3 separate regions of the Homo sapiens genome follow, and regions 1 and 3 are each linked to region 2. The links come from fine-mapping of genetic effects on gene expression. A gene starts in region 2. Each other region holds a variant in brackets. All regions are shown on one strand. Distances are between the middles of the regions. Region 1 holds the start of LOC124903034 (a long non-coding RNA gene). Region 2 holds the start of PXN (paxillin). Region 3 overlaps PXN (paxillin).

Region 1 (10,208 bases), 47 kb before region 2:
TGGATCCAGACAGCACAATGAGGAAGACCCCTCTCTCCCCACTGCCTGCTCCTCGCCCCTCCAGATGTGGTCAGGGGCTCCTTACCCGGCACACAAAGCACTCAGGATGCCACAGCGTGTTGAGGGCTGAGATATAGTTCTCCAGGATGGCCCGGGCGCAGCCGCCACACTTGGGTGCGAACATGTCGAAGTAGTCCTTGCGACAGTAGGCCTTGCCGTCCTTCTCGTGGAACCCTGGGGAGCGGGGGTTTTGGAGGCACAGTTCATTCCGGCTTCCAGAAGTGGAGCCACTCTGACTCCAACCTCAGCAGCGTCTCCCACCCCCACCTCCCCGGCCCTCCTAAGAGGCGGTGGGTCAGTCCGCCGGTCCAGCCCGTACCTTCGGGACCAAAGAAGGCTCCACACTGTGCACAGAAGAAGTGTTCAGGGTGCCACGTCCGGTCAAGGGCTGTCACCACTTTCTGTGAAAGCAAAATGTGGGATCAAGGCTGAGCTCTGGGCAGATCTCACAACTGAGACGCCCAGCAAGGCCGTCCTTCCACCCGCAGCTCATAGCCATAGACAGAGCAAAACACTCCCAAGATGGGGGTCTCTCCTAATTGTGCTGTGAATGCCTCTAAGAATTCAGAGTTACTCAGGATGGGACAAGCCAGACACATACCCTCTCCTCTACTCCTCACCCCAAGTAGAGGGCACAAGTTCTATGACTCCCATTTTATAAGTGAAGAAACATAGGCTCAGAGAGGCCAGGCATTTCCTAAGTTCACAGAGAGGGAGAGTGAGGCCGCTGGCATCCAACTCCATTTATCTCCTCAGGGCTCCTGAGTCCTGGGAGTCTCCACAGAAAGGAATCGAGATGGGAGGTGAAGGGAGGTGGGGCTGCCCGATGCACATCGGGACAGGCTGTGGTTCAGGTGTGGCTGTGAATCCGGCCCCACTGTTCCCTAGCCCTGTGAGCCTCGGGCATGTGACCTCTCTGAGCCTCCCACGGCACCCCCTGCATCCTCAGAGGGCTGCGGTGAAGCTGGAATGAGCGGAAGCGGGCGCGGTGCCGGATGAGGAACTCACATCCAGGATGGGGCCGTTGCAGTAGTAGCAGCGCGGGGAGAAGAGGTTGTGGTAGTCCTTTTCACAGTAGGGCTGTCCATCCCGCTCGAAGAAGTTCCGGGATCCGATCTCCTCCTGGCAGTGGGTGCAGACGAAGTGCTCGGGGTGCCACGTCTTCCCCATGGCGGTCACAACCTGAGGAGGAGATGGAATGCGGTCCAGGGCCAAGGCCAGCCCCGGAGCACCCCCACCCCTGCAGGAGTCCACTGGCCACACCCCTGCCCACTCCCCCTCATCACCTGCCCGGCGATGGGCTTCTTGCAGGCCCCGCAGACTCCTTTGGCGACTGTGGCGACCCCCAGCTTGTTCAGGTCAGACTGCAGGCTCCCCAGCATGCTGTCCAGCTGGCTCCCGGGCTTCGGGGGCCCCCCAGGGGGTGAGCTGCTCCCTGTCTTCCCCTGGGCCATGAACTGTGGACACGGAGGGGGCTGGTCAGGACTCCTGAGGCTCGGGGTACGGTGTCTGGCAGCACAGGGATGGGGGTACTTTTCTCCCTCCTGGACAGATGAGCTGATGGAGACAAGAAGTACAACCTCCTCCAGGGGCCAGGAGCCCTAAAGTGGGAGTGACGTCAGCAGGACTCCTGGTGGTCGGAGGGGCCCACCAGGGTCGGAAAGGCTGAGGGCACCCAGCAGGCATGGCCAAGCCCAGGGAGAGCACGACACGCAGGACACCCAGCCCAGCCTTGGCACTGACCCCTCCCTCGTCCTGCCCTCCGGGGCTGCTCCGCCCGCCGTCCCGAGGCCAGCCGGCCGCCCAGCACCGCTCCCCATCCGCTCTTTGCTCCAGGCCCTGGATCTTAGATAGGGGAAGAGATGAGGGTAAGAAATCTTTTTTAAAAATTAAGAAAGAATACAAGACCTTGTCACTGGACTAAAAGGGAATCTAGGATGAGATCTGAGGGTTTCTCCCCCACCGGCAGGACCAAAATTGGGGGAAAAAATCTGGAGAAAAAGAGCCCTGAGAGAGAGGCCTAGGGAGAAAGGAAGAAGGACAGGGAGGGGAGTCGACCAAAGGCAGAGGAAATGGCAAGGGGAGGTGGCCGGGCTCAGTGATGAGGCCTCACCGGGCGCTGGGCCTGGGGGCTGGAAGGGAGGAGACAGGTTTCTGGTCTCCCTTCTGGAGTGGCTTCTTTCCTCGATGGGAGCCCGGGGCAGTACTGAGGACCAGTCGAGGAAGGAGCAGACATGGGTGGACCCACAGAAAAGCAAGAGGGCAGCGGACCTTCTGAGTGGGGGAAGACCGGGGTCAAGGTTTACGGCAGGACTGTGGTTACTGTGCTGGGGCTTGTAGATGGAGGGATGGAGGGTATCTGTGTATGTGTGTGTGCACGTGTGTGTGTGCAGAGTGGGGGATGGCTCAGGCATTAGGACAGGGGACAGAAAGGGAGGGGCTCCTTTAAGGCCTGCCTGCATCGGGGGGAAGAGCGGGTCCTCATCAGTCTGGCAGCCCACGGACCTCATGGTGTGGGGTGCAGGAATGGGAAGGGCAGGGCCCTGCACCCCCTCATCATGGGGCTCTTCCCCTGCACTCTGGACCCCAGAAGAACCACAGGTATAAGCTGAGGGCCCCAGGGGGGAGGAGGCGAGCAGGCTGGGCAGGGGAGAAGAGCTGCTGGCCGCGGCGTCTGTGCGATGCTGGAGCAAAGGGACAGAAGGAGAAGCCAGGACAGAGATGGTTCTTCTCAGGGGAATGGGAGAGCCAGGAGGGAAGACAACCTGGGGAGAAGAAAGGAGGGAGAGCGATGAGGAAGAAATCGCCAGCTCAGCCCACAGGGGTGGCGGGACCTCCCCAGGCTCCCCCTGGGCCTTCCCACTCTGCACCAAGAGTGGGGCCAGTCTTCCAAAGTCACAGGAGGCAAGAAACCCCCACCCTCTCCCCAGATCTCCCCTCCGGCCAGCACTGGGGCCAGGGAAGAACCCGGACCCCAGGTGCTTGGCTCTGGCCCAGCCCCAGCCATGGGCATCTCCTCGCCACCTTCTCTACGAGCTGCCCCCCGGCCCGCTTCCCACGTGGCTGCACAGTGATGATGACGCCCTCGGTCAGCCAGTCCTGGGCAGAGGGCCCCGCCGCCTCCGCCGGCTCCTCTGCCTCAGGCTGGATGCCCAGCCGCCCCTGCAGCTCCGCGATGAGCTGTTCCTGGGATGGGGTCCTGCTCAAGGTGGCAGGGTCCAGCCGGCGGCGAGGGGAGGGCTCCCGGGACATGGGGTGTGCGTGGCCAGACTCCCAGCTCCTCCTGATCACAGATCGGATCTAGGGGGAGGGGGAGGGGAGGCTGTCACCGTCCCACTCCCAGCTTGCACAACGCTGCTCAGGCCACACTCAGATGCCTCAGGAGAGGGAGCACAAAAGAAAACCACCAAAGAACCAAGCGGAGGTGGGTGGAGGCACGGGGAGGGGGCAGATTGGACCGGTGGAGGTGGGTAGAGGCAAGGGGAGGGGGCAGATCGGACTGGCTCCAGAAGCACAGGCTGCGAGCGAGACCTCTGACCCAGCATTCACCTCTAAGTTGGCCACTGACCTTGGGCAAGACACTTAATTGCCATGGGCCTCAGCTTCCCCTTCCTTAAAATGGAACCACAAGATTTTCTTGGCTTACCGCACAGGGTTTGCACAAGAATTATTCCAGAGGATGTAAGTGCATGCCCTTGACAAGGCATACGGCTTTTTCTTTTTTCTTTTTTTTAATTTATAATAGAAAAAGTGTTTCCTTCCAGGAACTTTTTTTTGGGGGGGGACAGAGTCTCGCTCTGTCGCCCAGGCTGGAATGCAGTGGCGC[G/A]ATCTGGTCTCACTGCAACCTCCGCCTCCTGGGTTCAAGAGATTCTCCTGCCTCAGCCTCCTGAGTAGCTGGGATTAAAGGCATGCACCACCACGCCTGGCTAATTTTTGTTGTTGTTGTTTTTTGTTTTTTTTTTTAGTAGAGATGGGGTTTCATCATGTTGGTTCGGCTGGTCTCAAACTCCTGACCTCGTGATCTGCCTGCCTCGGCCTCCCAAAGTGCTGGGAATACAGGTGTGAGCCACCGTGCTCAGCTAGCCAGGAACTTTTTTAACTAGTTTTTTTTTTCTTATTTATATTATTATGCTAATATTATATTATGCTATTATACTTGTTGGTAGTGTTTTGGGGGTTTTTGGTTGTTTCGTTTTGTTTTCCAAAGAGGCATAAAGCTTGGGGGATTTTTTTTTTTTTTTTTTTTTGAGACAGTGTCTTGATCTGTTGCTCAGGCTGAATGCAGTGGTGCGATCACAACTCACTGCAGCCTCAAACTCCTGGGCTAAAGCCATCCTCCTGCTTTAGCCTCCCCAGCAGCTGGGACTATAGGCATGTGCAACCACGCCCAGCTAATCTTTAATTTTTTGTAGAGACAGGGTTTCACTGTGTTGCCTAGGCTGGTCTCAAACTCCTGGGCTCAAGCGATCCTCTTGCCTCAGCCTCCCAAAGTGCTAGGATTACAGGTATAAGCTACTGTGCCAGGGTGAGGCATAAAGTTTTTTGTTGTTGTTGTTGTTTTGTTTTTGTTTTTTGAGACCAAGTTTCACTCTTGTTGCCCAGGCTGGAGTGCAATGGTATGATCTTGGCTCACCGCAACCTCTGCGTCCTGGGTTCAAGTGATTCTCCTGCCTCAGCCTCCTGAGTAGCTGGGATTACAGGCATGCGCCACCATGCCCAGCTAATCTTTTTGTATCTTTAGTAGAGATGGGGTTTCTCCATGTTGGTCAGGCTGGCCTCGAACTCCCAACCTCAGGTGATCCGCCCGCCTCGGCCTCCCAAAGTGCTGGGATTACAGGCGTGAGCCACCACACCTGGCCCGGCATAAAGTTTTAATTTAAGCAAAAAGCAAGTAATAAAAGTACTGTCAGCCACGGCCTATTGAGGGACCACATGCTGTGTTCTAAACACTTTCCAGGAATTATCTCATTTAGGTCTCCGGACAATCTTGATGGAAATTCTCCCCACTTTACAGATGAGAAAACTGAGGCTGAGGGAGGGGGTTGCCCAAGGTCACAGAGGTAGCAAGTGTTAGACATGTGGTTTGTATCTAGGTCTATCTGGTTCCAAAGTCCATGCTGCTAACCATTTCACCACATCAGAATGTCAAGGACAGCTCATCTGAAAGGAAAAAGCCTCAACAAGGCAAGAGGTGGGTTGACGCTATGAGAAATGCTGGGTCCACAGAGCCCACTGCCAAGTGCTGACTGTCAGGTCCGGCCACAGTGTCTCAGCATTTTCTGCCCAAGCAGACATGCGCAGAGTGGGAGGCTGCATGCAGTTAGCGAGGAGCGGCCCACACTCAGACCCGCCAATGGCCATGCCCAGCAGCCATGCGAGCTGGTGCCTGCCTGGCCAGAGGTGGAAATCCTCTCCGTGGTGCTGGGTGTGCCCATGGCCATGGCACATGGAAGCTCTGGCTGTTCCTTCCCGTCCTGGGTGGCAGCTTCCGTGGTGCCCTCTGGGCTCCTTGGGGTTTCAGGTCCCTGGGTTGGCCTGGCCACACTTCCCCTCTCGGTCATCTTTGCACCTAGCTGCTCCGTGGTAACTGAGGCAGGGGAGCTGCTTCCCAGCCTCCCTGGCTCTGGCCTTGGCCTCTCCTGCTGTAGGCCATGTTCCTCCGTGAGAGTCCAGGTATCTGGGAAGATGGCCTGCCGGTCCACTGCCACTACAGCTGGCTCTGTTACTTCTTGGAAGCTTCGAGCAGCTCCAGAGGGGGGCATTCTCTCAGGCCCGAATACCTCCGAAGCCCATGGCTGCTCCCATGTGGCAGCCAAGGCCTCCTCTGGGCACGAAGGGCTGGCTGGTGGCCCCTGGGGCTCCCCAGGCTCTTGGAGAGCTGTGCTCCCAGCACAGGGTACAGTGTGGCAGCGGGGAGCCCCAGAGAGCTCACTTGTGATGGTCGGCAGGTGCCTCCAATCTCGACCCTGACTCTCTGTGCCCACTGCCCACAGAGAACCCTCCACAGAGGGAGACCTTGAGTTGAAGGTGTCAGGCATCACCCCAAGACCAGCCAAATCAAGCCAGCTGGGGGCTACAGGAGGTAGAAGGCCTCGTCCACTCTGCTCAGTACAAGGGAACTCCGGAGTGTGGCCCTGGCCTCGAGGGGAGGGTATAGTGGTGGGTGGCAGAAATACAGATGGCATGGGAGGAGGAGAAGGAGGAAGGGAGCAGTATGAGGACGGAGCAGAGCTGGACAGCCCCGGGGCACTCAGAGCCACAGTGGAGGAGCTGGTCTGGAGAAGAGAGAAATGCAGAGGGGAGAGGAGAGAGAGAGATGAGGGGAGTGAGGACGGCTGCACCTTGCAGGCGGTGGGCTCGGCCTTAGGGCTGACCAAGGTGGCTGCAAAGCTGACGCACAGGACTGACCCTTGAAGGAGACCCAGACCCCAAAAAAGCTTCCCTGGGCTTTGCGTGCTTAGCCCTCACCAAACCCAAGCAAGAGAAAGCAGCCACCAAGCCGTGCCTGTGGAGCCACCCAGGGAGGGTATGAGAAAGAAAAGACCACGGTAAGGTGGACAAATGGGGAGCCAGGTGGCTACGGAAGACAGCCCCAGGCACAAATGGAGGGAGAGCCAGCCCCAGGGGCTGCTGAACCCGCCTCGGACACTGGCCCAACTCGGCCATGTCCCTCCGGACAATCCCAGCTTTCCTACACCCCAAGTCCTCTACGTCTTCCACATCCTTGCTCCAGGGATCTGACTAAAACCACTGCTGCTTCTCCTGGCATCAGGACACAGGCTGTCTGAGAAAACGGCAGCCTTAAAAGCACCGGGGCACAGCTCCCTCAGGCCAGGCCCTGAATCCAACTTACTTGCTTCTGACCATGGCTGCTCAGAACCACTGGCCTGGAGCTGGAACTATAGCACGCAAGGGTCACAGGGCCAGGCTCAACCCTCCACCCCAGCCACACTCCTGTCTCCCACCATGAAACCTCAGCTGAAGGGAGGCTAGGAGACACCATCAGGGCCAAGGGTGCAGGGACCGTTCACTCCCCTCTCATATTCCCTAGGTCATGCCCCAAAGGTCTCCAGCTGACCCACGTGGAAGTATGAAGTCAGCAGCTGCTGGTGAGTTCTGTCAATATCAATCCCCAAGGAAACACTGAATCCTCTAAATTAAACATCTCAGGCCTGGCAGGACTGGGGAGGCCCAGCAGGGGAGGGGAAGGGCAGGTACCTCGTGCAAGCCTGGCCCCATGGTTTCCCACAGACACGCTCGTGGGAACTCAGAGGCCCTGGAGGGCGAGAGGGAAGGATGGGAGAAGAGTAGCAAGGGAGGCTTGTGGATTCAGGATCAGAGGCAGAAAGAAAGAGGATGTGTTGAGGACAGCTAGCGTGGGAGATGGGGCTCCAGGGCAAATGACCTCCCAGGCACAGGCTCCCAAGTCCCACATGGCCCAGCAGAGAATGCCCTCCCCCACCCAGAGCAGCCATCAACACAAGGTTCTTTGTCCCAGCGTCCCAGCCTCCTGATCCCCTCGACCTGAGAGGCTGGGAGCACCCAGGGAGGAAGGAATGTCCCAGCTGAGCACTTCTCCAGCTTGTCTGCCTTCACTGGCTACTGCAATCCTCAGGCAGGCTGACCCGGCCCTCCCTCCCCATCTCCTGGCATCACAGCAAGGCCAGGGCATGACAGTGTCCCTGGCTCAGGGGCAAGGCACCCAAACACTGAGATGCCAAGATCCAGCTACCCACACTGAGGTAAGGGAGGAGAAGGATGAGGGAGGGGCGGCAGGGCAGGGAAGATGGAGGGTTCACAGGGCACCTTGAAATCCGACAGCGAAGCCATCAGCTCGTCCAGCTCCCTGGTGGCAGAGGAGGCCGAGATGCGTGTCTGCTGTTGGGTGGAGGTGACGCGCTGCGGGCTGCTCATCTCGCCCTGGTTCACAGTGATGGCAGGGCTGCAGGGTGGGCACAGCATCAGTGGGGAGCCCACAGTCAGCCCCACACTTCCCGGGGATCAGATCGACCTCTCACCTCGGACACTGGGGTCTCACCATCCCCAACCCCAGGGAGGTCCACCAGCTCCCTGTCTCTCCTGGGGACCCATCACTGGGTCAGAAGAAAGGGCAGTTCAATGGCACCAGGAAGTGCCAGGAAGACTCCTCTAGCCCCCAGCCCAAGTGAAAGCTGGCCTGCGAAACAAGCCCAAGCGCCCTGTGTTTCCTCCACAACACTGGACATGGAGGTGAGGCTACTGCAGTAACACGACGGCACTGGTAAGAGCTCGCGTGTTGGGCACTCACCATGTGTGCCACGCACTACACACCAGAAACCATTCCAAGCGCTTTACATGGATTACTGGTTCTCACCCTTACTGAGGTAGGTGGTCTTATCCCAGTGATCCCATAAGTTCTTGTCCCATTTTACAGATGGGAAAACTAAGGCTTGAGAGCTGACAGTAACTGTCAGAGCCAAGATGTGAACCCCACTGTGTGGCCCCAAAGCCTGTGCTAAGAGCTGCTAAGCTCCAGGCGCCCTCAGCCTGCACAACGTCTGTCCTTTCTGACTGGCAGTGACTGGCTGAAGGCAGGGATGGTGTCCATGTGACTCACCACTATCCCCCCAGTGCCTGGCAAATGGCAGACACGGGAGGGAGTGGGTGATACCAGGGCTAAGGGGACAGACACTGGACCCGGGGCAGGCTGGGCCAGCCCTTCCCCACCTGGGGAGGGCCCAGTGGGTACTCACACGGGGCTGGGCACGGAGCTCTCCAGTTCATCCAAGAGACTCTCCACACTGGGCCGCACGTCCTCCAGGCCCCGGCCCCCATTCCGCTTAGGCTTCTCTTTCGTCAGGGGCCCAGCTTTGCCTCCCAAGGGGCTGTTAGTCTCTGGGACACCATAGAGGGGGCTCAGGGCCCCAGGAAGCGGGGGGCTTGAGTTGGCCTCATCTTGCAGAGAGGAGAGAAAAAGGCTGCTCAGCCCTTGAGCCCTCCTGGGATCTAGAGGTCAGCAGATGGGCCCTGGGCCCTGGTAGACCCTGCCCCAGGGACCCGGTCCTACCTGCAGGGAAGCCTGGCGGGTTATGCTGTACAGCGTTCAGTTCCAGCAGCAGGCGGTCGAGTTCAGAAAGGTTGCTGCCCAGGGACGTGCTCATTACGGTGGGTGAAGGCTCAGCTGATTTCTGCTTGTTGGGGAAGCTTTGAGAGGCAAAGGAAAGAAGATAGTGAGAGATGCTTTCTGGCCTTGTACTGGCTTGGCAGTTCCCAGATTCCCAAGGAGAACAAGGCAGAGGAGATGCGAAGTCTTCCCCCGCAAGAGGACAGAGGGTAGGGAAGGGATGTGGTAAGAAGAGGGGAGGAGGCCGGGCACAGTGGCTCACGCCTGTAATCCCAGCACTTTGGGAGGCTGAGGCGGGCAGATCATGAGGTCAGGAGATTGAGACCATCCTGGCTAACACGGTGAAACCCCGTCTCTACTAAAAATTAGCCAGGCGTGGTGGTGGGTGCCTGTAGTCCCAGCTACTTGGGAGGCTGAGGCAGGAGAATGGCGTGAACCCAGGAGGCGGAGCTTGCAGTGAGCCGAGATCGCGCGACTGCACTCCAGCCTGGGCGACAGAGTGACAGAGCGAGACCCCGTCTCAAAAAAAAAGAAAAAAAGAAGAGGGGAGGAATGAAGTCTTGCTTCAGTTCCTCAGCTACACGGAGATGCTGTGATAGCCCAGAATGTCCACTGCATGGAGATGGCACTGATGAGGTAGACGGGCCCACCGACAGGCCTTCTGCAGCTTAAACCAGAATAACCCCACAAGGCCCAGTTGCTATGCCTGCTCCCGGGCCTCCGCTGCCTCCCACCCTGGCCAGGTCCCTGAGATTTCTAAGCAGGAGGGAAGGTGCCCTGGGCAGACTGGGGCAGTACCTGTAGACGTGCTCCTCCTCACCCACTCGGGAGCACGGAGAGCCAACACTGTCCTGAGGGTTGGAGACACTGGAAGTTTTGGCACTGGAGCCGTACACAGGTGATGAGGACTGAGGCTGCGAGAAGGAGAATGCTCAGAGGCTACCCCGAGGGGAGAAAAAGGAACAGGGGCCAGGAGCAGCTCCAGTCACCCCCAGGAGGCTCCTGCCCACAGCCAGTCTCACCAGGGAATTTCCACAGTTGGGCC
Region 2 (10,208 bases):
GTGCCTGCACATAATAAGAGCTCAATAAATATTATGAGAAAAAGTTCTGTAAACACTGTAAAAAAGAAAAGTACCCCCTAGGCCAGAGTGCAGTGATGCGATCTCGGCTTACTGCAATCTCTGCCTCCCGGGTTCAAGCGATTCTCCTGCCTCAGCCTCCTGAGTAGCTGAGACTACAGGCACGCGCCACCACGCCCAGCTAATTTTTGTATTTTTAGTAGAGATTGGGTTTCACCACATTGGCCAGGCTGGTCTTGAACTCCTGACCTCAAAAGATGCACCCACTTCAGCCTCCCAAAGTGCTGGGATTACAGGTGTGAGCCACCATGCCCGGCAGATTTTGTTATTATTAATGAAGGCACTGAGACTAGGATGATCCCCGGAAAGGCTGCAATGAGGCTGGAAGTTTATTCAACATCTCTGGAGCGAGGTAAAGACGCAAGAGAAGCTTCAGAGTCAGATACTCCAAGCAGGATGACTAAATAGGAGAGGAGGGCTGCTCAGTGGCCCACCAATAACTCTGGCCTTCCATCAGCCTCTCCAGCCAAGGGTACACCCAGTCTCTTCAATGCATGACCATCACTAGGGAAGCTGGAAAAAAGGAATACTGAGATATTCCCTCAAAAGACCTTGAACCTATAGTGACAGGGCTTTGGGTTCCAGTAGGCTGAGCATTTCTCCATCAAGCTATGTCTGCCCAGGCAGCAGACAGCTTCACATATCAGAAAGTGTACCCGCTGAAGAATCAAACCCACCAAGGTTTGAATCCCAGCTCTGCCCCTTACTAGCACAAGCCCAGGAGAAGGTCTGGCACTGATGCAGAGCCCACCAGGAGGGCACTATCGCTGCATGGGTAAATGCCGCCTCTGCCACACGCCCAGCAGCTGGGTGCCCTGACTCTGCCCTAACACACAGAGGGACCACAGACAGGAAAGCCCAAAGTCCAGACTTTCCATGGAAACAGGGAGGCTCCATAGCTCCCAATGCCCCAGGCAACTCCTCTGCCCCCCTAGCACTACCCCCAAGGACAATGAGGCACTGTTTTCCAAAGGGTCAAGACTGCTGAGAAGCTGAAAGAAGACATGTCCAGATTCCAGCAGCAACTGGGCACTGCCAACAGCTGGCTGTTCCCCCTGCTAGAGGATGGGAAGGCAAAGCTACCCAGTCTTGCACTGGACACACCCTTTGCCATTTCCTGGGATGGGCCCCTAGGGCAGAGATTGTTAAAGGTAACTATCAATTACTCAGCAGGCCCCAAGGCTCATCCCCCTGGTTAGTCACCAGCACCTACCACCTTATGATGATTAAGATAACCGGATCTGGAATTGGATGAGCCTGGGTTCAAATCCCAGCACTACCACTAAACTTCCCTGAGCTCAGGTTTCCACATGTATAAAGTGGAGCGAAAACACCTCCCTTTCTGAAAGGTTGTGATACAGCTCGTAAAGTGCTGAGTACAGTGCCTGTCTCCCATGAAGCGCACATGATCATGATTAGACCACAGTTGTGGTCAAAGCCCCCACCAAGTACACTGAGAACATGAACAGAGGAAGAGCAAGCAATCGGGTTAGAAAACACAGTCAGAGTGCATCTCAGTGTTGTGGGAACTCTGTCCAGGAAACTCCGGCCAGAACTTGAACAGAGCGAACTCTGGGCCAAACCAGCATCTAAACAGTAATAAGAAAAGCCACCAAGCAGCCACCCCAAAGAACAAAGTGGAGAGAACACACAGGGAAGGGCAGAACACGCTGTGTTGATATTTTTCTGCTCAGAGAGCTATAAATTTGTAACTTATTAAGCAGCACATGGTGAGTCTGTCATTGGCAACTATGGGAAGGAGAAGAGTTCCCCATTTTTTATTAGACCAAAAAACAAAGTCACAGAGGAGGTGATGCACCCTCTGGCCTTGCTACCGGACACACCATAAACTCTCCCCTGTGTTAGGGACCAGGAGGCACACGGCTGAGAGCACGCTCAGGAGAAAAATAAAAACAAGAGGTCTGGGCTTTGTGTCCACCCTAAGGAAAACAGCTGAGCCACCCTAAGGAAAACAGCTGATGGCAGTGTGCTGAGCCGCCATCCAGACAGCTGACGGGGCCCCAGTGCAAAGGCAAATTCCTCTCCCCTCCTGCACACCCCATTCCTCCCACCCCAGGCTCCGGTCAGTCAGGCGTGGCTTGCCCCTTGGGAGCTCAGGCCAAGGAAGTCGGGCAGCCCGGATGTAAGCAACTGGGAGTCTATGGTAGAAAGCAGTAGAAGTTACAGGTGATCGCCATCACCCAGTGGCAACCCCTCCTTCAAGTGCCCTTGCCTCCTCCCCAGGAAAAAAAGTCTTCTCGGTATACAAGAGCCACAGATCTGGGAGCTAGGAATTGGGCTTCCAGTTATGGTTTTGTCATTTCATGGCTGTGCAGCCTTGGGCAAGAGAATCAGCCTCTCTTCGTCTCGGCTTTCTCAATCTGTAAAAAGGCAGGTGGTCATGACAGCATTGGCTTTAAGGTGGAATCTGATAAAAGGGTTGTTGTGAGGATATCACAAATCGAGGTAGAGGGAAGTACTCCACAAACAGCAATTTAAATCCCTACAATCCCCTCTCCCGTATACAGTACTCTCTTTCCTTTCAGAACTCAGTTTCCTGGCCCTAAATGGAAGACTGTCAGAAGACAGGAATTCCAGATTTCGATGGCGAGCTCTACAAAGACTTTCTCAGTCCTTGAAACAGCACGGGGACTGCCGAGAAGCAACAGAACTGCACCAGCACTTTAGAAACTGTAACTTTGCTCCCAGTTCCCACTGGGAAAGCACTCAGACTCTTAGATCCTGGTTCAAAGAACATCCCCCAGCCTCCTTCCAGCTGAGCTATTTTTATGTGAAAAAAAAAAATACCTGCCTGGAAGCCATGCCAACCTTGAGCACACTGGAAAAATGGGTGCCAAGCCTGACCCAAAGGCAGAACCACGCTTGGCAGCCATCTCACTCTGCAAAACAGGCAGGACCCTACACCAACCCCAGCTCCAGGATCTCAGGGGCACCCTGATCCCAAAAGGAAGCTGGAGGGAAGCAGTCAAGTCCAGCACCTACAAATAGCCAGTCTTAACTTAGTGCCCGGCGCTGCTTGGTAGAGGTCCATCAGTCCTGTCTGCTGAATCTACTCCTCAGAGCCTGGGACAGAGGAAGCATCAGTGGTCACACAAGCCACCCACAGTCCAGAGAGGAAAGACAAGGCTCCTGCAGAGAAGAAACGTTGCCCCCCTCCTCACCTCCCAAGCTCAGGGCCCTCCAGCTACAGGCGTGAAGGGGAGGGAGAGACAGCGAATCCTCCCACTCCTGCGTTCACGCCACCCAAGGCATTCCTAGAACCCTGGCACCAACCCCCTTGGGTTTAGAGTCGGCTTCCAGGAGATACTTTCTTTCCCCTAACACCAGATCAAGACTGGACTGAAAAGAGTAGCCTTGGGGCTCCAATAACAGGAAAACAGTAAAACTCTGTTCTGGGCATCCTGTCCTCTTTCACCTGCGTGGCTTCCAGCAGGGCCTGACGCAGAGAGGGTGGAGGGGACTCTGCTAGCCAGGACACGTTCAGGGATGGTCATACCTTGGGGCCCACCTTCCACCTCATTCCCCTGGCATTTCACCAGAATCTAGGGGTGGGGAGAGAATCAGGACTCCCAAATTACCGTTCTAGACTTAGATACCATGGTAGACGGACTGGTCTGTGAATTGAGGGGCTGGTCCACAGAGCGGGGAGGTCAGTGAGAGAAAATGAGTGATGGGTCCTTGAAACGGGGTGACCAGATTTGAAGTGGGGGGTCAGAAGAGCAGGCAGACTGGGAAACTTGTCTTTGAAATGGGGGTGTGGTCATCACACGCTCATCTCTAGCTTTTGCATCTGACTTGTGAAATGAAAGGGGTGGGCTCCGAGGGGTTATCCCTGAAGGGGGGTGCTAGTCTGTGAAGTGGGGGGCGGCCCTGGAGGGACGGGGAGCAGGTCGAGGAAATGAGGGAGCAGCCCATGAGATCGGGCAGCTGCTCCCCGAGTTGGGCGGTCGATCTGTGAGGTGGGGGTGGGGAGAGGTCTGCGAGGTGAGGGTCCCGTAGCTGACGAGGTGGTCTGCCGCAGGAAGTCTCGTCCCTGCAGCGGACGGGGTGGGTCCCTGAGGGGCGGGCTGGTCCCTGGGGCCCTTCTGGGAGATGGTGATGGGTCCCCGAGGTCGGGGGTCCAGAGGTGAAGCCGTCCCAGACGGGGGGTCGCTGCTGTGCGGTCGGTGCCGGGGCCGGCCTGGCCCGAGACTAAGGCCCGGTTAGGGATCCCAGCCCCGCGGAGCCCCGGCCGGCAGGGACAGGAGCTGAGGCCGGGGCCGCCGAGGGTGGGATCCCGCGGCCCCTGCCGCTCGCTGGCGCCCTCCTGGCCCCAAGCTGCGCGCCTCTCGCCTCCTCCTCCCTCGGCCTCCCGCTCACTCACCGAGGTCGTCCATGGCCGGACCACGGGCGCCGGCTCAGGGTCGCGCTAGCTGCCCGTCCCGGGGCCGCTCGTCTATGCCCCGCAACTTTTCCGCCGCGAGCCTCGGCCCGGAACGGAACGCGCCGCCGCCGCGCGCGCCCGCGCCCGCGCCCGCCGCGCGCCCCGCCCCCGGCCGCCCCCTGTGCACGCGCGCCCCGCCCCCGGACACCCCCGCGAGCTTGCTGGCCCCGCCCCCTGCGCACGCTGGTCCCGCCCCCGCCAAGAGCCCGGGCAGTGGGCGTCGCTGGGCGGGGCGGTGGCGCCCCCTCGCGGCTAAGCGGGCAGGTGGGCGGCTCCCAGGCCTCCAGCCACTCCCATCCATCTTTCTGTCCCTCTCAAAGTCACTTGCCTGACCCTGCGGATGACAAATCCGTCCACAGTCAGCCATGTGTCTGTGCATTCGTCAGCCACTGGGTCATCACATGCCTGTCCACTGGACAGTCAGTTTTGCCCACCTGTCCGTCTGTCACCTGTAGGTCACCACCCAGGAGGACCATAAATCAGTACCAGGCAAGGCCCGGAGCCCGTGGCTGACCTTTCCTGGGGTCGTCCTCTGGATCAATGGCAGTGCAGCTCGCAGTTCACCCTTTCTGGCCCAAACCCAATACCTGTGTGGTTCCATCTCTCTTAATATTACTTCCACACAGCCACCCTCCCTAGACACTTTTCCAAAACTGCATGGGGCAGAGGGGTCCCCAGATTAGACATTAAAGGGAAAACTACAGGAAAGTCACACCCAGTGCTCCCACACACTCGGAAATTGGGTAATAATAACAACTACCATTTATTGAGTGTCTGAATAGACAGACACTATATAGCTATTCTCTAAATTAATCCTCCTAGAGGTACTTCCCTACCCGTTGGGATGGGTGATGGCAGTTTGTGGATTTTATATAAAACTGCTCTGCAAGTACAGCTTCGAGTTCCCCTTGTCCCTCAAGAATCCAGGCCTTCTGGGTCAGATCAGGTCCTCCAGAAAGCAGATGAGATGCTGAGATAAAGCTAGGGGTAATGCCCGTGACAGAGAAGGGGAAATAAGCAGGGTTGGGCAAGGAGACTCAGATCTGACAAACAGGTCAACCCATCAGGGAATTCCAGGACAAAAAAAATGAGAAGTCTCCTTGGGCAGAAGTATCCGGGTTCCAATGCTCCCACCATGTTCAGTCATTTTATAAAGGCAGATCCAAGCAGCTTCTGTGGCTGCCACATTCTCCTATAATAAATTCAAGACCAAAGACTGTTCCTCAAACACTCTATTGCGTGGTTTTCCAGCATCTTGCACATACCTCTATTTTGTTTTAGTTTTTGTGTTTTTGTTTTTGTTTGAGATGGAGTCCCAATCTGTCGCCCAGGTTGGAGTGCAGTGGTGCAATCTCAGCTCACTGCAACCTCCGCCTCCCAGGTTCAAGTGATTCTCCTGCCTCCTGCTGGGATTACAGGCGCATACCACCATGCCTGGCTAATTTTTGTATTTTTAGTAGAGATGGGGTTTCACCATGTTGGCCAGGCTGGTCTTGAACTCCTGATCTCAGGTGATCTCCTGCCTCCTGGTGGGATTACAGGCGTGTACTACCATGCCTGGCTAATTTTTGTATTTTTAGTAGAGACAGGGTTTCACCATGTTGGCCAGGCTGGTCTTGAACTCCTGACTTCAGGTGATCCGCCCCCCTCAGCCTCCCAAAGTGCTGGGATTACAGGTGTGAGCCACCACGCCCAGCCTGTTTTTGTGTTTTTAAGACACAGTCTTGCTTTGTTGCGTAGGCTGGGATGATGAATAAGACTAACATGATGTCTACCTTCTTGAATCTAAAGGTGCACGCAAAAGAGCAAAGTGGTTAGCATGAAGGATGAGTAGCCTCGCCCCACTCCCAGCTGTGTGGAACAGCATGTGCAAAGGTCTGTAGACAAGACATTTAATACTGACCACAAGCCTAGGAGATGAGCATTGTTAGCCCCTTTTACAGCTGGAAGAGTTGAGAGTCAGAGGTTGAATTACTCCAGGTCATACAGCTAATAAGTAAGGAAACTGAGATTTGAACCTGGGGAGGCTTATGCCAAGGCCTGGTTATGAAACGGCTAAGTGAAACTGCTAACAACTTAGACCAACCCCAGGGCATACGCTTGTCCACTTCTCCAAAGGTCTAAAACCTTTCTTTTTCAAAGCTGTGTGGTCTGGAAATGCGAGGCACCCATTGAATGGGCAAGTTTCCCATTGCTATGCAGAGTTCTAAAGAGAACTGAAGCTTCAGAGTTGAGTGCTGGTGCACTCGAACACTCAGGTCCCTGCCAGGGATTTCCTCATGTAAATCATTCCTAAACCCCCATTTCCTCCCTGGCTTCCTTCTTCCCTTGGACTCTCACCCCACAGCAATTAAACTTGGTGTCTAGTTCAGGCTGCTACAACAAAATACTGTAGACCGAGTGACTTATAAACAACAGAAATTATTTTTTCACAGTTTTGGAGGCTGAAAGTTCAAGATCAGGGTGCCAGCACAGTCAGGTTCTGGTGAGGGCCCTCTTCTGGGTTGCAGACTGTTGACTTTTTGTACCCTCACACGGCTCAAAGAGGGTCCCTTTAATAAAGGCACTAACTAATCTCTTTCATGAGGGCCCTGCCCTCATGACCTAATCACCTGTCAGGCCTCACCTCCTAACACTATCGAATTGAGATTAGATTTCAACATATGAATTTTCAAGGATATGAACATTCAGTCCCTTGCATTTGATAAAATCAATCAGGTTTTTTCATTCTTCCTAAAGATTAAACGACATTGACAGAGCAGATGGACAACCCTGCTGACTTCTTGCTAGTGGTTCATCTTGGGCAATTTACTCTGTGCCTCAGTTTCTTCCCCTATAGAAAGGTTAATAGTAGCTACCTCTCAGAGTCCTCATAGGACTAAATAAGAAACGACACACCTAGTACTTAGAATGGTCCTTGTCACCACAAAATAACACTCTTCACTCAGCAATAGAAACAGAACTCGACCAGGCTCACACCTGTAATCCCAGCACTTTGGAAGGCCAAGGCGGGCGGATCACTTGAGGTCAGGAGTTCGAGACCAGCCTGGCCGACATGGCGAAACACCATCTCTACTAAAAATATATAAATTAGCTGGGCATAGTGGTGTGCACCGGTAATTCCAGCTGCTCAGGAGGCTGAGGCAGGAGAATCACCTGAACCCAGGAGACGGAGGTTGCAGTGAGTCGAGACTGTGCCACTGCACTCCTGCCTGCGCGACAGAGTGAGACTCTGTCAAAAAAAAAAACAAAGAAAGAAAGAAGGAAGGAAGGAAGAAAGGAAGGAAGGAAGGATGGAAGGAAGGAAGGAAGGAAAGAAAGAGAGAGAAAAGAAACAGAATGCAAGCCGGATATGCAATCAAAACTTTTCTTTTTTTTCTTTCTTTTTTTTGAGACAGAGTCTCACTCTGTCGCCCAGGGTGGAGTGCAGCGGCATGATCTCAGCTCACTGCAACCTCTGCCTCCCGGGTTCAAGTGATTCTCCTGCCTCAGCCTCCTGAGTAGCTAGGATTACAGGCACCCGCTATCACACCCGACTAATTTTTGTTTTTGTTTTTTTTTTTTTTTTTGAGACGGAGTCTTGCTCTGTCGCCCAGGCTGGAGTGCGGTGGCGCGATCTCGGCTCACTGCACGCTCTGCCTCCCAGGTTCATGCCATTCTCCTGCCTCAGCCTCCCAAGTAGCTGGGACTACAGGCGCCCGCCACCACGCCCAGCTAATTTTTTCTATTTTTAGTAGAGACGGGGTTTCACCGTGTTAGCTAGGATGGTCTCGATCTCCTGACCTCGTGATCCGCCCATCTCGGCCTCTCAAAGTGCTGGGATTACAGGCGTGAGCCACCGCGCCTGGCCAATTTTTGCATTTCTTTAAGTAGAGATGGGGTTTCACCATGTGGGCCAGGCTGGTCTTGAACTCCTGACCTCAGGTGATCCCACCTGCCTCACCTCCCAAAGTGCTGGGATTGCATGTGTGAGCCGCCGCGCCCGGCCCAATCAAAACTTTTTTAGCCAAGTGCAATGGCATATGCCTGTAGTCCCACCTACATGGGATACTGAGGCAGGAGGATTGCTTGAGTTTAGGAGTTTGAGTCCAAACTGGGAAACTAGCAAGACCTCCTCTCTAAAAAATATCTTTAAAAAAATAAAAGAAACAGGCCAGGCACGGTGGCTCATGCCTGTAATCCCAGCACTTTGGGAGGCCAAGATGGGTGGATTACCTCAGGTCAAGAGTTTGAGACCAGCCTGACCAACATGGTGAAACCCCATCTCTACTAAATATACAAAATTAGCTAGGTGTGGTGGCACATGCCTGTAATCCCAGCTACTTGGGAGGCTGAGTCAGGAGAATCGCTTGAACCCGGGAGGCGGAAGTTGCAGTGGGCCAAGATCCAGCCTGGCTTACAAGAGCAGAACTCCATCTCAAAAAATAAAAAATAAAAAAATATATGGCCGGGCACGGCGGCTCATGCCTGTAATCCCAGCACTTTAGGAGGCCGAGGTGAGCAAACAACCTGAGGTCAGGAGTTCAAGACCAGCCTGGCTAACAGCCTGGTCTACTAAAAACACAAAAATTAGCCGGGCATGGTGGTGGGCACCTATAATCTCAGCTACTCCAGAGGCTGAGGCAGGAGAATCGCTTGAACCTGGGAGGTGGAGTTTGCAGTGAGCCAAGATCACACCACTGCACTCCAGCCTGGGGGACAGAGTGAGACTCCATCTCAAAATAAATAAATAAAATAGATAAAATTAATGTTAATAATATATTTTATTTAATTCAATATATCCTCAGTGTTGGCTGGGCATGGTGGCTCACACCTGTAATCCCAGCACTTTGGGAGGCCAAGGCGGGAGGATCACAAGGTCAGGAGATCAAGACCATCCTGGCCATGGTGAAACCCCATCTCTACTAAAAATACAAAAATTAGCTGGTGGCACGTGCCTGTAATCCCAGCTACTCGGGAGGCTGAGGCAGGAGACTCACTTGAACCAGGGAGTCAGAGGTTGCAGTGAGCTGAGATCCCACCACTGCACTCTAGCCTGGCGACAGAGCAAGATTCTGTCTCAAAAAAAAAAAAAAAAATCCTAAATGTTATCATTTCAACTTGTAATCAATATAACAAAATATCAGTGAGATATCTTACTCTTTTTTGTATGAAGTCTTCAAGATCCAATGTGTATTTTACACTTACAGCACATCTCAATCCAAATAGCCACATTTCTTTTCTTTTCTTTTTTTTTTTTTTGAGACAGGGTCTCACTCTGTTGTCCATGCCGGAGTAGAGTGGTGAGACTGAGGCTCACTGCAGCCTCAATCTCCCAGGCTTAAGTGATCCTCCCATCTCTGTCTCCTGGGTAACTGGGACTACAGGCACATGTCACCGCACCTGGCTAATATTTTTTATTTTTAGTAGAGATGAGATTTTGCCATGTTGCCCAGGCTGGTCTTGAACTCCTGGGCTCAAGCCATCTGCCCACCTCTACCTCCCAAAGTGTTGGGATTACAGTCATGAGCCACTGCATCCGGCCCAGCTAGCCACATTTTAAGTACTCAGTAGTCACATGTGGCTAGCGGCTACTGCATTGAACGGTACAGTTTTAAATGTCAGCTGTCATCATTATTTTGGTTTTTGTTTTTTTTTTTGAGATGGAGTCTCGCTCTGTCACCCAGGCTGTAGTGCAATGGCACAA
Region 3 (10,208 bases), 36 kb before region 2:
GTGCAGCGGTCCCCACCCCCTCAGTGAGCAGGGGGCAAGACTGCTCCATTGGCTGTTTCTGCGGAAGTCTGGCAAGCAGCCCGGCCCCAGAGGCTCCAGGCCCCCACTGTTCTGCTTTTAACAGCGGCAAGGGAGCCAAATCAGCCCTCTAGTGTAAGCTTCCATTACCCTGGCACCTGGCAGCCAACAGGGGGGCACTAGGTCTCCCCAGTCTCCAGAAAAGAAGGGTATAGAAGGGCAGGAGTAGGACCTGCTGACCCCCACTTCCTCCATCCCCTCCTGGGACCCTCAACAGCCCCACGGCTCAGACAGCCTGGCCCTGGATGCCACACCCTCATTCCTGCCCCGTTCACAACTTGCTTGCTCTCAGCTCCCCGGTAACCTGCTGGGTCCAGGGAGCTGACAGCTTGATCCCTAGCCCTCAGGATAATAAACATCTAAAAAGCAATGGCTGCGTTTATTGCCACTTATCAGTAGCAGGCAGACTGCTAGGCATTCTAGCAGCATGTACGAGGTCTCCGTTAATCCCCCTAATACCCCCTGTAGCTGGAAATGATTCTCCCCGAAGCGATGAGGAAAGCCGGGCTTGGAGAGGCAGAGGTCAGAGGTGTTTGCTCCAAATAACAAAGCCAGTGAGTGGCACAATTGTCTGACTCCTCAGAAGCCCCAAACCCCAAAAACCTGGCCTGTAAGAGGCCACTATGACTACCAGATGATGCCATACTTAAAGGGTTCAACTTCCTGAATGTTGGAGGCCCAAGCTGTGAGGCCTGCCAGTGTGATCCTTCCTTGTGGCCTTGCTCCCAGTCCCCCAACCTGTGTTCAGAGGAGGGAATAGAGAAGCAAGGCCCTCACCCAGGGCCTCGGTCTATGGGGCCACACCTTGTCCCAGCTGCCTGTCCTGATCTCCTACCCTCAAGGCTGGCCACACCTACCCCATGCTCCTGCCCAGATGGACAGAGGGGATGTCTGTTCCAAGGCCCAGGACCCCGGGTCTGGTCGCCTGACCTCCAAGGAAGTTCAGGTCCTACAGCCCGCCCCGCCCTCCGGGTCCCATGGAGGAGGCCTGGCTTCCTGTCTCTAGCAAACCGGAACTAGAGGGAGTTGGTAGGTATCTAGGTAACGGCAGAAAAGGAACCAGTGTCCAGGCCAATCCCCACGGCCTCTCCAGGGCCACACCTGCTGTCTTGGCTTCACGCAGTGTCCTCATTTCCTCTGGGCCCAATCAGCAATGGGTGGATCCCTCTTTCTCCACCATGGGCAGGGCCAGCTAAGAAACCCCATAGGACTCCCCAGAGCAGGCAACGAATGAGTGCAACCCCAGTAGGGGGCAGGAGCAGCTGCCATCCTTGAAGGCCCACTGGGGCCAGGAGCTTCACCTTTGTTACCTGCCATCCTCACAACGCCACCAGCACAGATGGTATAACTGCGGTTCAGAGGCAGAGTCACATCCCACACTGCCAAGGCTGGATGAAGTGACAATGCTGGACTCTGATCTCAGGTCTCTTGGACTCCAAACACCCAACAGAAGACAAATGGTCAGGCTTCCTTGTCAAACATTTTGAATCAGGGACTCCACCAAACACCCGCTCCACCACAATGTGATTCTAAGCCTGGGCTTTTGGTTTATGGATTGGATTCAGGTTTACAATGTCAACAGGCTCTTGGGAGCACAGATCCCTAGGCTGGTGAAGTATTGGTGAGAGGATGCAGTCCTGGGGCACAGAGACACAAGATCACTCATTCTGAGGTCGAGCCAGACCTGAGTTCAAGTGCCAGCTCCCCTCTCTACCATCCATGCCACAGGGCAAATCGCTTAGCTTCTCAGGGCCTGTTGTCTCAGTAAGCTCTTGAATAACTCTGACCTCAAAGTACTGGTGTGAGGTTTATAAGGGCTAGCAGGTACACTGGAAGCTGCAGACATCAGTTGCAAATATCAGGCTCTCCAGACCCAAGTCACTCTGCAGGAGGAAGCTCCATAGCACATTGGAAGCTACAAACATCAGATCTGATTTGCTCTGTAAAATCCAGAATAAGGTCTTCCTCCAAGGAGAGCAGTGTAGGTAGGATGCAAAGTACTAACTTCTTCTAAGTCTCCTAAGTCTTTTCTGGGTAGAATATGAGCAAACCATGAAAAGGGCAACCTTGAAAAGAAAAGAAAAGTAATAAAGTAACATTCAAATTGTAGCATGTCCCAGCCTGGGCAAAACAGTGAGAGCCTGTCTCTACAAAAAATTTAAAAATTAGCTGGGTGTGGTGGCGCATGCCTATAGTCCCAGCTATTCAGGAGGCTGAGGTGGGAGGATCACTTGAGAACAGGAGTTGGAGATCGGCTTGGGCAACACAGTGAAACCCCATCTCTACAAAAAATTTAAAAATTAGCTGGGTGTGGTGATATGCGCCTGTAGTCCCAATTACTCAGGAGGCTGAGGCAGGAGGATTGCTTGAGCCCAGGAGGTCAAGACTACAGTGAGCTACAATTGCACCACTGCACTCTAGCCGGGGTGACAGAGCAAGACCCTGTCTTAAAAACAAACGAACAAATCATAGAGTGCAGATGTCAGGGAGAAGGCACATCATTATTCAGTTTTCTCCAAAGTTTTGTCTATTTGAGGGACAGAGAAAAACCCCAGCAAGTCCATCCACCAGCCACAGGGTCTCTGGTATGGCTTCCTCCTCTCTCTCCACCCTTCATTCTCACCTAGTGATTTGGACAGGCAAGGACTAGGCAAGAGGGGTAGGGGTTGGTGCCTCCAAACCCCCCACAAACTCCTCAAGAAAGAAAACCAGAAATACAGGAGGCAAGCCAACAGTAGACTCCTAGCTTTACTTTGATTTCCAATGGGTGCAAATACCTGAGACTTCCCCATAGGCTGCAAAATGGTTAAGGGTCAGAGTCCCCTTGCAAGCTCAGCAAACGTCCCCCCTGGCTTGAGCAAACAGAGCTGGCAGACACTGCACACAGGAAGGAGTCCACTTGAAGGCAGAGCCCCATCCCAGCGGGGTCCCCCAGTGTCCGGCTCCAGCCTTTCCCTCTGCTCTAAATATTCCTGCTCCTCATACCCCAAAGAAGGTGTCAGGCTATCCACTCTTCAGAGAAAATGGTACCCACTGAAACCATTCAAGACCAGGAATACACCCTCCCTTCCCACATGCTGGGAGGACAGATTCCAGACACGCTGCTCGGAAGTAGTCGGGAGACCTCATTCAAGCTAAGAAAGGCCTCAAATTTCCTTGGCATTACTCTACTAAGTTTCCAGGTCCAGGCCTGGGGCCCTCCAGACCCAAGTCACCCTGAAGGAGGAAGCTCTCTCTCTGGGGCTTCCCAACCACTTTCTGGAGGAAACCCACCCTGAATTCTGCAGGTTTTCTGTCTCTCTGGGCCAGCGGAAGTATGCAACATGAGGAGGTAGGCCAGGCTGTCTCGAGGCTGAGGGCAGGCTAGGTGCAAAGTCCCCAGCGAGCCATGGGCAAAGGCCACGGAGCTATGTCCTGGCTCCGCCCTGGTGAGGAAGGGGTGCAGACTGTCTGCTGCTCCCCACCAGAGGGCACCATTGGCCCGTCAGCTTCTTGCCACTGGGTAACCTCGTGCAATCTTGCAATTTTCTAGCCGGGGAAGACTGGGGAGCCCCTGGCCATGGGCGCAGTGGGGAAGTTTCTATCCTTAGAGAACAAGGCTGAGCTGGAGGAACACAGCAAGCTAGTGGGAGGAACACAGGTAGCCTGGTATCACTTGAAGGCACAACCCAAGGGTGACATGCAGGGCTCTGGAGAACCAGAGGGGTGCACGCCCTCGCTTCCAGGGCCCTGTGCAAATGCAGCACCGTGTGCGCCCCTATCTGCACCCCATGGCTGCACCTGGTCGGAGCAACAGCATGGAACAGCTGCAGCTTTGGGTCGGGAGGCCGCCCTGGGGCAGGTGGCTGGGCAGAAACAGTGCACTACGGCCAGGCTGAGAGGAAGAAGCCCTTCCCTGGGCCTCAGCAACTGACTGAGCGTAATCCTTACAACCGGTGGGAGCCGCTGGAGGGTTAAGGTACAGACACCCTCAGCCCACTGCTCCGAGGAGGAGGGGACCGGTTCGCCTGCATTCCAGGGCAAGTGCTGCAGCTGCATCCCTCACATTCCTGTACCCACCTAGGGGCTCCGGGTGGAAGGAAACCTGGGTCCCCTTGTACCTACAATGGGGGGATGTCCCCCAGACTGTGGCTCTGGGGACCCCGGTTGATCCACTGACGCATGGCACTCAATATCAGATTAAAGAGAATCAATTAAAACCTTCCGCCCCCACCCCCGACTGCAGCACAGAAACAAGCCAGGCTGCTTCCTCCTACCTAAGCCCCTGCCACTTCTTAGTGTGTGATAAAGACTATCAAGACCAGAGGCCTGGAGCTGGACAGGTGCCAAGAGAGAGGAGATAAAAGTCCATCTCTCTGAGGGGGTGGGAGGACCCAGAGCGATTCCATTCTCTCCTCCCAGGCTCTGAGGACTTTCAGTGTTACAACTTGTACGGTGAATCCTCAGTCACCTGGGCTCTGCTCAATGGCTGAACTGCTCGGATAGGCTGCTTAACTGCTTTTGTGCCTCAGTTTCCTTGTCTGCCCAATAGGAATTCCACCATTTTACTCACAGGATTGGGACTACATGAGAAAAAGATATAAAGTGCTGACTTAGCACAGTGCCTGGAATACAGCACACAGGAAATGGGAGTTGCTAAATAGATTACAAGCTTCTTCCCAGGGAGGTGTTAAGCCCTAGGAGGGGAAAGAAATCACCTCCCCGTCCTATCCAATCCCTGAGGGCAAAGGGTGCTGCCCTCTAGTCCCAGATCAGCAGGAAGCAGGTAAATGTGGGGCATGGAGCCAGCTTTTCCATCCCTTCTTGGAGTTTACAGGCTGCCCTGCCACACCAGCCCCAGCGCCAGGGCCCCGTGGTCCCTGCCCACCTTTGCCATTCTGGACTCCTCCACCAGCAGCCCCAGGCAGAACTAGAAGAGGTATAGTCCTGTGGCCCTCAGGCAGCGCCCCACCTTAGCACGCCTTGCATTCTCGAGGCCTGGCCCAGGAGAGGCCCACGTAAGAACAAGGTATTTTCCAGCCCCTTCACCCACCTTCTTCTGCAGGCCAATTTCACTCAGCTTTCATTGCCCCAGGCAGGGAGCGGCCAGTGCAGCTTCCTTAGGAGCTGACAAGCCAAAGGAAGGAGCAGCAAGCACCGCCCTGAAAGCTCCAGCACCAGCAGCAACGGGCTGCCATAGCACAGGGGCCTTCCCCGCAGCCCTGGGCCAGCTGTCCATCCCTGCCATCTGATAGGAAACCCAGACTCCCAGAGAAACAAGTCCCTGTCCTAGGGGGTCTGGGGATGCCCAGCCTCATGGCCTGTCTATCCTGTTGGGTCCAGAACTCTGGACAAGGGAGGTTCCCAACCCCCTGATGACCACCTGGGCAGCCTTGGTAGCTCTGAGTGTCAGAGAAGCTGCGGCCTCCTTACAGTTGCCCACGCTCAGGGATATAAGCAGTGAGCAGGGCTTGGCCCTTCCTAAGGAAGGAGCTATGTAAACAGCAGGACCAGCTCAGGGATGGTCTCATCTCAGCCCCTTTGGTGAGACTCTTCCAGATTAGGAAGGAAAACAGAACGGGAAGGCGGGTCTCCCCCCTCCCCCTGGCTCCAAGTTCCCCTCCCCTCCCCCAGCCCAGAGCACATGAGCAGTTAGAGCAGAGGTAATCTAATCCGCAGCGGGGTGCTTTCACTCGGTGA[G/A]TAAGTCCCCAGGAATGGTGAGCTGGGTATATTTATCCTGATAACCGTCTGTCCTCAGTAAGGGCCAATCCACAATTAGGCCAGATCCACTCTGCCCCACCCACCCCCAGCCCAGGGACCTAGGGCCTGGACACTGACTAGGAACTCAGTCTCCTTGAGGGGCCTTCCCTGCCAATTTGGGTTCTTGTCAACTGTCTCCTCTCCAAGAATTAAGCTCCAGAGAGCAGGGGCCTTGTCGGTCTTGTTCGATGCCATATCCCCAGCAGCTAGAATGAATGGCTGAATGACAGAGGGGCTGTGAAGAGGAGGAGGATGGGGAAGCAGCAGTGAGCAGAGCAAACAGCCAGTGCGGAGGAGGGGAGCCAGGATGCCCTGATCCCAGGCCCAGCGGATGAGTGGGGGCCCCTCAGCGGATCCTCTAACCTCTCTGGATGTCTTCTCTATCAAGAAAATGGGCAGAACCCGATTTGTCCCCATTCCTAGTAGCATGCTCTGAGGAGATAATACAATTATGGGTGAGATTTATATAGCACCTTTGAGCTCTTCCGAGTTAGTCTAAATCCAAGATTCTGCTATTATCTGAATCCCAGACAGGAACTGCTCTGCTAAGAGGATGGATGAGAAACGATCAATACCATAGTGTCATTTAAATATTTAATAGCCATGCCTGGAGGTTACAAAGACTCAGCCACCAATTCTCCTCCGCTGACTCATGCCTCACTCAACAGGAACTGCATTTTACCCTTACAGCCCTGAAGGAAGTGTGGGCTGGGGGGTGACACACAGGAAGCCAGGGGAGAAGGCCCAGGAGTCTTCCAGTCAGCCGCCAGGGGAGGAGGGGGTGGTCATTTGGATGAAGTGGTTCTTCCCCAGGCTTCCTACAGGCCTAGCTTAGGAGGGTGGCTTCCTGTATGCTGAGGAGCTCTTCCTTGCAGAGGGTGACACAATATGAGTGTGCAGACAGACTGGCTTTATTGGCTGCCTGGCTTGTGCCCAAGGTCACAGGGCACAGGTAACCAGAGACCTGAGAAAATAATGGCTGCAAGGCAACTCCAGCAGTCACCCTGAGCTCCAGGCAGAAGACCAACTGTGCCAGGCCCATCTGCACCAGGCACACACAAGGCCCACCCATCAGGCTCCTGGCTGCAGCCACTTCCCCATCAAATTGGGCTCCAGGAGCTTAAGCAACAGCAGGTGAGACAAGGCTGCCCAGGTTGACTCTGAGCACTTCTATGCATCTGCCTTAGGCTACAGACACAGGAGTTCAGGCCAGGCTGGCCAAACACCAGAGTCTTTCTCTTCTTTTTTTCTTTTTTTGAGACAAGTCTTGTTCTGCCACTCAGGCTAGAGGCCTGATCACAGCTCATTGCAGCCTAGAATTCTTGGGCTCAAGGGATCTTCCTGCCTCAGCCTCCCGAGTAGCTAGGACTAAAAGCACATGCCACCACACTAGGCTTTTAAAAACTTTTTTGTAGAGACAGGGTCTCACTATGTTGCCCAAGCTGGTCTTGAACTCCTGGCCTCAAGCCATCTTCCTGCCTGGGCCTTCCCAAAGTGCTGAGATTACAGACAGGAGCCACCATGCCCATCCCCAGAGTCTCTTTCATATTGTAAATAACTCATCTCTCCTGTCCAGAATCAGTGGGCCCTCCCTCCTCCAGAGGTCCCAGAACATTGTGGACACATTTCATTGGTCAGATGTCATCCACCTCTTTAGGTCGCCCAGAGATGCTAGACCTTTTCAGGTCAAGTCCAGGGCCCCATTCCAGGCCCAACTCACAGCTCCTTCAATGGGTAAAACCCAGATTCACATACAAAAAAGACAGCCTCAAACCCAGGAGACTCATGGGCTGGAAAGGTTCTCAGCTGTTCCAAATCGACCCCAGCCCATTCCTGCAATCTGGGCTCTTCCAGGCAAGTTGATCTGTTGCAGAGCAGGGCGGCTCCTTGGGCCTCTCACCCCTGCTAATCACCAACAGAGGTTAGGAGGGGCTCAAAGTGAGTCATCGTCCCACAGAGACCCGAACAAAAAGTTCAAAAGTTTGCCTGTTCCTGAGATGAGCTGCAGTTTTTTTGCGATTTTTGTGGATTTCATAGCATTAGTTACCCACTCTTTGCTAATCAGGTTCTCACTAACCAGCCAGCACCTTCCCCTTTTTTCAGGCAGCAAGGTCATTTCCCGAAGTCAGCTCTCGCTTGCCTGACTTCCCCAGTTCTCTTTTCTAAGTCCCTTTAATAGCTCCCACATTTAGCTGGTCACTAAGTCACATCAATTCTTCCTTCGCGGGGCCTCTCCCTGTCATCACTTGCCTCCCTTTCCTTTCATCACCACAGCCAACCACTTGGACTAGCATTCGAATCCATGCTCAGTGCCTACCTGAACTTGACTGCAGCCCCCTGCCCTGGGTTCTCCCAATCTAACGCTTCCTGCACACACCATCGGCCCGAACTTCTTGGCACCCAGCCTTTTTGGGGCATGCCTCACACTTCACTCTTGCTTCTCCCCCTAGACTGCAGGTCCTCTGTGGGCAAGAACATCCTCCTGCTCCTGAATCCCCACAGCATGGATACCCTCATAGGCCTCCTTTTTTTTTGAAATGGAGTCTTGCTCTGTCAACCAGGCTGGAGTGCAGTGGCATGATCTCAGCTCACTGCAGCCTCCACCTCCCGGGTTCAAATGATCCTCCTGCCTCAGTCTCCCAAGTAGCTGGAACTACAGGTACACACCACACCTGGCTAATTTTTGTATTTTCTTAGTAGAGTCGAAGTTTCACATTGTTGGACAGGCTTGTCTCGAACTCCTGACTTCAAGTGATCCACCCACCTCGGCATTCCAAAGTGCTGGGATTACAAGCATAAGCCACTGTGCCCGGCCCTCACAGGCCTCTTAGAGGGGCTTGAATGAATGTGTGCAGAGCAAGGGGTGGAGTTATAATACTCACCCACTGTTGCCCTCTCTGCCTATAAAACAAGGTCAGAAACCCTGGGGATGGCATTCTGTTCTTGACCCTCTCAGAATATGGCCCCAAACTAACCTTCACTGCCTCCTTGGTCCCCCTCACTGCAACCCATGTCTCCAGCCAAACTGGACTCCCCGCTTCCCTTTTTGCCAGCGTGCCTTTCTTCACAATACTGAATGTGTCCCACCACTACCTCTATCATCATTCACCTGGTTTGAGCCTCTCGCACAAGGATATCCATACCCCCAGGGGACAGATGGAAGCCAGGGGTACAGGAAGCCACCTCAGGATAAACCCAGAACACTCTGAGGATCAAATGTACTCAGGGGCAAGAAATGTAAATCATTGTCTTAAAACAAACAAGGCTACATTATGGAGTCAAATGCAAAATGCAAGTGAAATCGTAAGATAAAAAGAGAGGCTTCAAGGCCTGCATGGTGGCTTATGCTTGTAATCCCAGCACTTTGGGAGGCCGAGACAGGGAGATTGCTTGAGGCCAGGAGTTCGAAACCATGTTGGCCTGGCCAACATGGTGAAACCTCATCTCTACTCTACTAAAAATACAAAATTTAGTTGAGCATGGTGGTGCATGCCTGTAATCCCAGCCTCTTGGGAGGCTGAGGCAGGAGAATGGCTTAAACCCAGGAGGCAGAAGTTGCAGTGAACAGAGATTGCGCCACTGCACTCCAGCCTGGGCGACAGAGTAAGACTCTGTCTCAAAAAAACAAAACAAAAAAAACAGATAAGATTTTGCTCTTGGGGACTTTGGCAAACAATTTTAAGCAGCACCACAAAGCCCCCACTGTCCACACATAAAACCACCCCTGCCCATATCACAGATTTGGCTGGTCTGCTGTCGTTGGGAGCTAGGATGGTCACACAGTTCTTTGGACACCCTCTGGGCATCCCACCTGCATGGCAGTGTGGTAGAGTGGAAGGAATGGGCCATCTAACAGTGAGGAGGATGGGTTCAAATCCGCCACTCACTAGCCTGGGTGACCAGTGACTAGATAATTCTGGGCTTTAGTTTACTCAGGCACCTCATAGCGCACAGTGAGTAATGGATGAAAAAGAATGTGAGAGCCATCCTGGTGGCTGGGATAAAATAAACGTAAGCCTCCCACTCTGACACACAGGAGACACTCAGTCAATAGATCCACATCACTGATTTTCATCTCCCTTAAGGCCAGCAGGGGGAGGAGTCGGAGCCAGGGACTGCAGCCAGGGATCCTGGGAGCTGTGACAGGTTGTCACTAACTCAGCCTTCTTGCTGAGCAAACCACTGACCTCACCCTTTGTGTCTCGGGTTCATTCCAAGTCCTCCTTGGAGAACATCAGCTGAGCCCAGGCGCCTCCAACTCACTGCCTAGCAAGGACAGAGGCAAGCGAGGGAAGCTGCAGGGCCCCAACGCCTCCACCCCCACCCCATCCCTACTGCCTGCCGGGAAGTCACAGCTGTCTGAGAGGCCTGTGGCTTTGAACCCAGAATCG

The links. PIP is the estimated chance that this variant, and not a neighbour inherited with it, causes the effect.
Region 1: its variant is fine-mapped to the expression of PXN in whole blood (TOPMed, PIP above 0.99).
Region 3: its variant is fine-mapped to the expression of PXN in left ventricle (GTEx, PIP 0.98).

The regions. Positions count from the first base shown.
Region 1 is chr12:120,213,757-120,223,964 of GRCh38, forward strand. PXN (paxillin) reads right to left here. Exons shown (of 15, transcript NM_001385981.1): 3 at 9,962-10,077; 4 at 9,107-9,243; 5 at 8,793-8,994; 6 at 7,867-8,002; 7 at 5,451-6,335; 8 at 3,085-3,360; 9 at 2,517-2,825; 10 at 1,804-1,905; 11 at 1,347-1,517; 12 at 1,069-1,242; 13 at 380-461; 14 at 86-234. It overlaps LOC124903034 (a long non-coding RNA gene), which reads left to right and starts at 6,335. Exons shown (of 3, transcript XR_007063487.1): 1 at 6,335-7,169; 2 at 7,559-10,208. RefSeq lists an enhancer at 2,248-2,974. The variant G/A (reference allele first, on the strand shown) is at 3,887.
Region 2 is chr12:120,261,155-120,271,362 of GRCh38, forward strand. PXN (paxillin) reads right to left here and starts at 4,576. Exons shown (of 15, transcript NM_001385981.1): 1 at 4,463-4,576. The coding sequence starts at 4,475. RefSeq lists silencers at 4,294-4,443, 4,604-4,883.
Region 3 is chr12:120,224,974-120,235,181 of GRCh38, forward strand. All of the region lies in intron 1 of PXN (paxillin), which reads right to left. LOC124903034 (a long non-coding RNA gene) reads left to right here. Exons shown (of 3, transcript XR_007063487.1): 3 at 1-448. Among named protein-coding and RNA genes, the nearest start is that of PXN-AS1, 29 kb to the left of the region's middle. RefSeq lists enhancers at 1,381-1,430, 1,447-2,127, 3,321-3,410, 4,479-5,038, 5,039-5,598 and 5 more and silencers at 273-567, 3,521-3,630, 4,873-5,167. The variant G/A (reference allele first, on the strand shown) is at 5,758.